Linked DNA regions of Homo sapiens. The protein of the gene in region 1 interacts with the protein of each later gene in a pairwise test. Each region holds a gene or a part of one and is shown on either strand. Other genes may lie near its edges. The genes, in order: CLPB and SMAD9.

What was found.
Region 2: the proteins of CLPB (region 1) and SMAD9 interact in a two-hybrid assay, tested with the Homo sapiens proteins (one large-scale study listed by BioGRID and IntAct).

What each region holds. Positions count from the first base shown.
Region 1 is NC_000011.10:72,284,742-72,288,347, reverse strand, and holds the end of CLPB (mitochondrial disaggregase), read left to right. Parts: 3' UTR 1-2,853; downstream 2,854-3,606. UniProt on the Homo sapiens protein: Functions as a regulatory ATPase and participates in secretion/protein trafficking process. Has ATP-dependent protein disaggregase activity and is required to maintain the solubility of key mitochondrial proteins.
Region 2 is NC_000013.11:36,844,201-36,847,445, forward strand, and holds the end of SMAD9 (mothers against decapentaplegic homolog 9), read right to left. Parts: 3' UTR 631-3,245; downstream 1-630. UniProt on the Homo sapiens protein: Transcriptional modulator activated by BMP (bone morphogenetic proteins) type 1 receptor kinase. SMAD9 is a receptor-regulated SMAD (R-SMAD).

The DNA.
Region 1 (3,606 bases):
AGCTAATTTTTTTTGTATTTTTAGTAAAGACGGGGTTTCACCATGTTTGCCAGGCTAGTCTCAAACTCCTGGTCTCAAGTGATCCACCCACCTTGGCCTCCCAGAGTGCTGAGATTACAAGCGTCAACGACTGTACCCGGCCCCAAATTCCTTATTGAGGATCCTAGAATACATGAGACCAGACTTGGAAATGAAAGTGTAACATGTTTATTGTTCAAAAAGAAAAACTCAAAGGTGTGTAGTGATTTTAAAATTTAGGGAAATTCCTCAATATAGTGAAAGAAGAAAAACAAGAAAGAAATTTAGGAAAGAAACACACTTAAACCATAAAAAATAGAAAATGGACCAATAAAGATAAAAGCTAAACTTAACAAGGTAGGAAAAAGAAAAAGAATAAATTAAAAAATTCTTTGAAAGCACCAATAAAATAGATAAAACCTCCTGAGCCTGATAAAAGGGGAAAGGAGCCAAAAAAATTAACAAAATTAGGCATGAGAAATTAGACATAACCATATATATTGAGGAATTGAGAAGAAGAATAGAACTCTATGGCAACAAATTTGAAATCAGAGGAAATGGATAATTTCCCAGCAAACACTGATCCTAGAAATAGTTTGAATAGGCCAGTTGGTTACCCAAGAAGAAACTGGAAAGGTGGTTAAAATTTTATCCTTTTTGAGCACCATAAGATGGTGAAAAATAAATAAAATTTTATCCTTGTAAAAGATTGATGGCCAGGCATGGTGGTGGCCCACACCTGTAATCCTAGCACTTTGGAAGGCCAAGGCAGGCAGATCACTTGAGCCCCGGAGTCTGAGACCAGCCTGGGCAACATGGCAAGACCCCACCTCTACTAAAAATACCAAAATTAGCCAGGCATGATGGTGCTTGCCTGTAGTCAACAGCTACTTGGGAGGCTGAGGTGGGGAAGATGGTTTAAGCCCAGGAGGCAGAGGTTGCAGTGAGCCAAGACTGTGCTGCTGCACTCCAGCCTGGGTGACAGAGCGAGACCATGTCCCAAAAATAAAAAATTGTTTTTAATTAAACTTTTTAATTGAAAAATATATGGGAAATTGTACAAATCACAAGTATGCAGCTCAGTGAATGATTACAAAGTAAACACACTCCTATAGCCATCACTCAACCCCCAAAATAGATGAGTTTTAACTATTATTGTACTCAAACCTGATAAAGTGCCAGAAAGAATGCTATAGCCTAATCTCACCTATGGCCATAGATGCAAAAATCCCAAATAAAATCAAGTTGAATTGCACACTCTGATTACATAAGGTTTATTTTAGCAATGCAAGGCTCAGTGTCAGGAAATTTATTAATTTATTACATCAAGAACTTAAATGTTATTTAAATGTCTAGAGAGTGCTAGTGTTGTTAAATTTTCTCATTTTGATAATTATACTATGATTACAGAAGAGAACGTCCTTGTTTTCAGAAAATGTAAGTATTTAGAGGTTAAAGGTAAACCTCTAATTTGGTTTGCCAGTATTTCAGATAACTACACACACACACACACACACACACACACACACGGAATGATAAAGCAAAAAGTAAGGTGTTGGCAAGGCATGGTGGCTCACACCTGTAATTCCAACACTTTGGGAGGCCCAGGCAGGTGGATCACCTAGGTCTGGAGTTCGAGACCAGCCTGGACAACATGGTGAAACCCCTCTTTATTAAAGTACAAAAATTAGCCGGACATAGTGGCACATGCCGGTAATTCCAGCTATTTGGGAGGCTGAGGCACAGGAATCCCTTGAACCTGGAGGCAGAGGTTGTAGTGAGCCTACATCACACCACTGCACTCCAGCCTGGATGACAGAGTGAGACTGTCTCAAAAACAAACAAAAAAAAGATGTTAACATTTGGGAAATCTGAGGGAATGATGTACATGAATTCTTTGTATTGTTTTTGCAACTTTTAAGTATAAAGTTATTTCAGGCCAGGCATGGTAGTGCATGCCTGTATACCCAGCTACTCGAGGCTGAGGTGGAAGATTCCTTGAGTCTAGGAGTATGAGGTTACAGTGAGCTATGATCATGCCACTGCACTCCAGGCTGGGTGGCAGAGTGACACCCTATCTCTTAAAAAAAAAAAAAAAAAAAAAAACAGGTGCAGTATCTCACACCTGTAATCTCAACAGAACACTGAGGGGTCAAGGCAGGTGGACTGCTTGAGCCCAGGAGTTCAAGACCAGCCTGAGCAACATGGTGAAACCCCATCTCTGCAAAAAATTAGCTGGTTGTGGTGGCATCCACCTGTGGTCTCAGCTACTTGGGAGGCTGAGGTGGGAATATAACTGGAGCTCAGGAGGTGGAGGTTGCTGTGAGATGAGATCGTGCCACTGCACTCCAGCCTATCTCCAAAAAAAAAAAAAAGGCTATAGTAGAAGCCTATTAGCATGGATAAGTGTCTGAATAAAAGATAACTGTACAAAAATCAATTGTTTTTTCTGTATTCTAGCAATAATCAACTAGAAACAGTATCAAAAGAAAAACATTCCATTTACAATTGCAACAAATAGGTATATATATATTTGCTCTTCTACACATAACCTATTTCTGGAAGGGAGCAGAACTGGGCAATTCAGGGACAGCAATGGAAGGGGAACACTGCTATGTTATTTTAAATACTTTTTAGTAAGCTTTGAACCATATTAATGTATTACCTGTTCAAAATTATACTTAATAAATTTAACAAGAAAACCATATTGAAGGGCATAAAAATAAGACCTGACAAGTGAAAAAACATCAAGTTTTAGAAAGGATGATTTAATACTAAAATATACATTTCTTAATATATAACTTAATGTAAACCTAATAAATAATTTAATACAAATCTAATTGACAGCACTTTTAATTAAATAATGTTAAGGTCATACTGCACTACTATGTCCAGAGGCGATGCTACATGGAGCTACTGTTTTCTGGGTCTAGCCTCTCAGGAAATAGTCATTACTACTTTTGCAATCCCATCTTGACAGTATGCAAAAATTAGGGAAAATGTAAATTTATTATTAACACACACCCTAAATACAATTATGAGAGAAAGGAAAGAGAAGGGTTACTGTCTGTGGCTGGAGTATAGTAGCTGTGTATGAGTGTGGAGAAGAGAGGAAATTGGTGGAAAATGAAGCTAGAGAGGCAAGTTTCCTGATTTCAAAGTGCCCTGAATGCCATGCTAAGGGAATGAAATGACCAGATTTGTGTTTTAAAAGACCCTTTGTTTGCATTGTGTAGAATGATTTGGGATGACTTCTGACCAATATACAACAGAGAGTAATTTCAGGCAAACTCTCTTCCACCTCAAACAGAAATATTTAATATATGTAATAAGACAAGAAAGTTTAATACACAACTAGACTTGAAACCAAGAATGGGAAATCCCAGCCATGTACAGTGGCTCATGCCTGTAATCCCAGCACTTTGGGAGGCCAAGGCAGGCAGATCACCTGAGGTCAGGAGTTCAAGTCAGCCTGGCCAACATGGTGAAACCTTATCTCTACTAAAAATACAAAAATTAGCTGGGTGTGGTGGCATGTGCCTATAATCCCACCTACTGGGGAGACTGAGGCAGGAGAATTGCTTGAAC
Region 2 (3,245 bases), on another chromosome or scaffold:
GAGGCTTCACGGTCCCCACCAGGATCTAAACAGGCATATCTTTCATGTGTTTTTATTTTGGAGTTCCACAAAACACTTTTTTTGAATACAGAGCTCCATTTCGTTAAAAAAATTGACAACTCTGATCAAGTAAATAAGAAAGCTGCTTATAGGTAATAGAGTTTCCCCTTCCTTTTTAAGATTAGAAGGAAATTTAGATGAAAGGAATTGAGAATTTACATTTTTAGATGATGTGTTCATATTTCTTTGGATTTCATCTTAGTTTTCCCTCACCAGTTGCCTTTTAGCACCTTTCTAATAGGCAATCTGTAGCAATGTACAGATGTTTACAATAATGAAAGTGCTCATTCTTTCCTATATACTGCAATATCACGTATTTGCTACTATCCAGAAAAAGGTTCTACATATATCCTTTCTAAAGTTACTGTGAAGTATCTTCAAGAACTATACTTCATGACGGTTATTCTAAGGTGTTTAATTCAAAACCACTACCTAATTTCTCTATAGCATGTGGAATTTAACATCCCATTTTCAAAATAGAATGGTTTAAAATTAATTGACTTAAGGAGCTGCAGACCCACATACAGTGAATCTTCTATGAGGTTTACAGGAAAAATGAGCCAAAAGACATATAAGTACAGTATTCTTTATTATAAACAATCAGATAACAGTATAAGTGTGCATTTGATGGATAACCGAAGCCAAGTTATTATAATAGAAAGCATGACTTCACTCAAATAGACAGTTTCTTTGTTGTTGTTAATCTGTTTTACATTAATTTGAATTTAACATATGCTAGGATCACCTAAACTTGTCATACAGTTCTGCTATTAAAATCGTAACAGGGAAAGACAAAATGTGAAATGCATGTTATATTTTGCTTTATTTGTTGAATATATATGTGTGTGTGTGTGTATATATATATATATATATACACACTAAATATTTGGGACACAAAGTTAAGCAGGTGCTTACAGTCTATCAAGTGATATTTATGAAATGTTTTTGTTGCTGTTTTGTTGCTGTTATGGGAACATCCATATCCTTAGAAGACAATAAAAAAGAGGATTCTAAATGCTAGATGGTTGGCTAACTTCTCCTGATTTATACTGAGTGTAAAACAAAACAAAACAAAACATAAGGTATATGTGTTAAGTAGTGACATCTTTATAGTTCCAAAGCACTCGCAGCTATTAAAATATCATCTAGCTAAAACAAACTTTTCACAATTTTTTAACAGAAAAATAATAAACCAACAACAAAAACTGATCAATGTTCTGGGTCTTGTGAGCAGACCGAAATGTTACTACAGTGTTCTCTATTGTGTGATCCTTGTCCGTGGCAACCTTAAACGTGTGCTGCAGTGCTGATGTATTTATAGGCTTAGCATGTCTGCTTTATTAGTTATCCTGGAAAGAATGCTATTCAGTTTTTTTTTTAATGTCTACATCAAGGAATGAATGCTAAATGAGCCCATTTAGCAGCCTGAAATCAAATACTGCATTTATTTTTTGAAACTCTTGGTAGCAAAAGAAAAAGCTGATTAAAATATGATTGTGTTACAATGACTAAAGGGTTAACTTCTCATTAATTCTAAATTCTTCAAAATGTACAAGCATCATAATAAAGGCTTTTGATGAGACATGACTGGTGATGATCATATGTGCCAATTTAATAATTTATTTGTCACAGAAAATTCAGATTCACTGCAATATTGTGTTCTGGCTTCCCAAAGCTGCAGGGAAATACAAGTTTTTTGTTTCTTGATTTTTGTTTAGAGACAGGGTGTCACTTTGTCACCCAGGCTAGAATGAAGTTGTATGATCATAGTTCACTACAGCCCCAAACTCCTGGGCTCAGATGATCCTCCCGCCTTGGCCTCCCAAAGTGCTGGGACTATAGGAATGAGCCACTGCATCCAGATTTTTTTTTTGTTTTTAATGTCATTTATGAGCCACCAGTTTAGATTAATTCTGTAAAGGTGTAAGATTACCAGAGGAAGCCGGGCGCAGTGGCTCACGCCTGTAATCCCAGCACTTTGGGAGGCTGAGGCGGGCGGATCACAAGGTCAAGAGATAGAGACCATTCTGGCTACCATGGTGAAACCCCGTCTCTACTAAAAATATAAAAATTAGCTGGGCGTGGTAGCCTGTAGTCCCAACTACTTGGGAGGCTGAGGCAGGAGAATCACTCGAACCCGGGAGGCAGAGGTTGCAGTGAGCCAAGATCACGCCACTGCACTCTGGCCTGGTGACACAGCGAGACTCCATCTCAAAAAAAAAAAAAAAAAAAAAAAGATTACCAGAGGATAAGTTAGATAGCTGGTAGAGAGATCACGAAAGCTATGTTTGATCTCTGGAGCAAAAACTGTGTTGAAGTTCTCCCATGGAATGGTTCCCATACAAGATTCACCATATTAATGCCTTTTCTAAGAAAAGGGGACATGGAGAATTATTGGAAAACAGGGAAGAAAGGGGAGGAAAAAAAACAACTTTGAGACATGGAAGAAAAGTAGCATTTATACAAGGAATCCATTACCTGACTTTGCAGAAGAGTAAGGAAATAATTTCAAAACAGAGATAAGAAATCAATCACATTCTTTCAAGCAAAAGATGATAGATTACATTATTTTGTTTTGTTTTAAAAGTTCTGAAACATGAAGATGTCTGTACAAACAGATTCACTATTAGGTTCTCGGCTCCCTGAGGGCTGGGACTGTCTCTTATTTACATTTGATTCTACAGTACCTAACATTGTACCTGACACCCATAGGTAGGTGCACAATACATAGTTGATGAACCAATAAACTACAGATTTTTCTATACACTACATGGGCCATATATTACATTTTTCAATGTAAAATGTAATAATTCTTTTCTATGTGTATATATGAAAGTTTCTATTAGCTAACACTAGTAACTGTAAGAGGTGACAGTAGTAGCTCAATCATATATCTTTCTCACATGATCATTTCTACCTTGAATACAATTTAATTAGAAAAACTACCATGTGCACTAATGCTAGAAAGAGTTGAGATAAAATGTATAAATGAAGAAACTTCTTGGATTACTGAAGTGCTGTCTGTTACAAGCATAACTGCCATCTTAAATTGTACATTTTTAAAGAGGGTGTGAAATATTTTTCCAAGCAATGCAGTGTTTAGTGCATGGCAAGTATATATATGAAAGTACCTAGAAATTTGGGGGATTTTCCTCCCTCATCTAAAGTAAAATAAGAACAGGTTT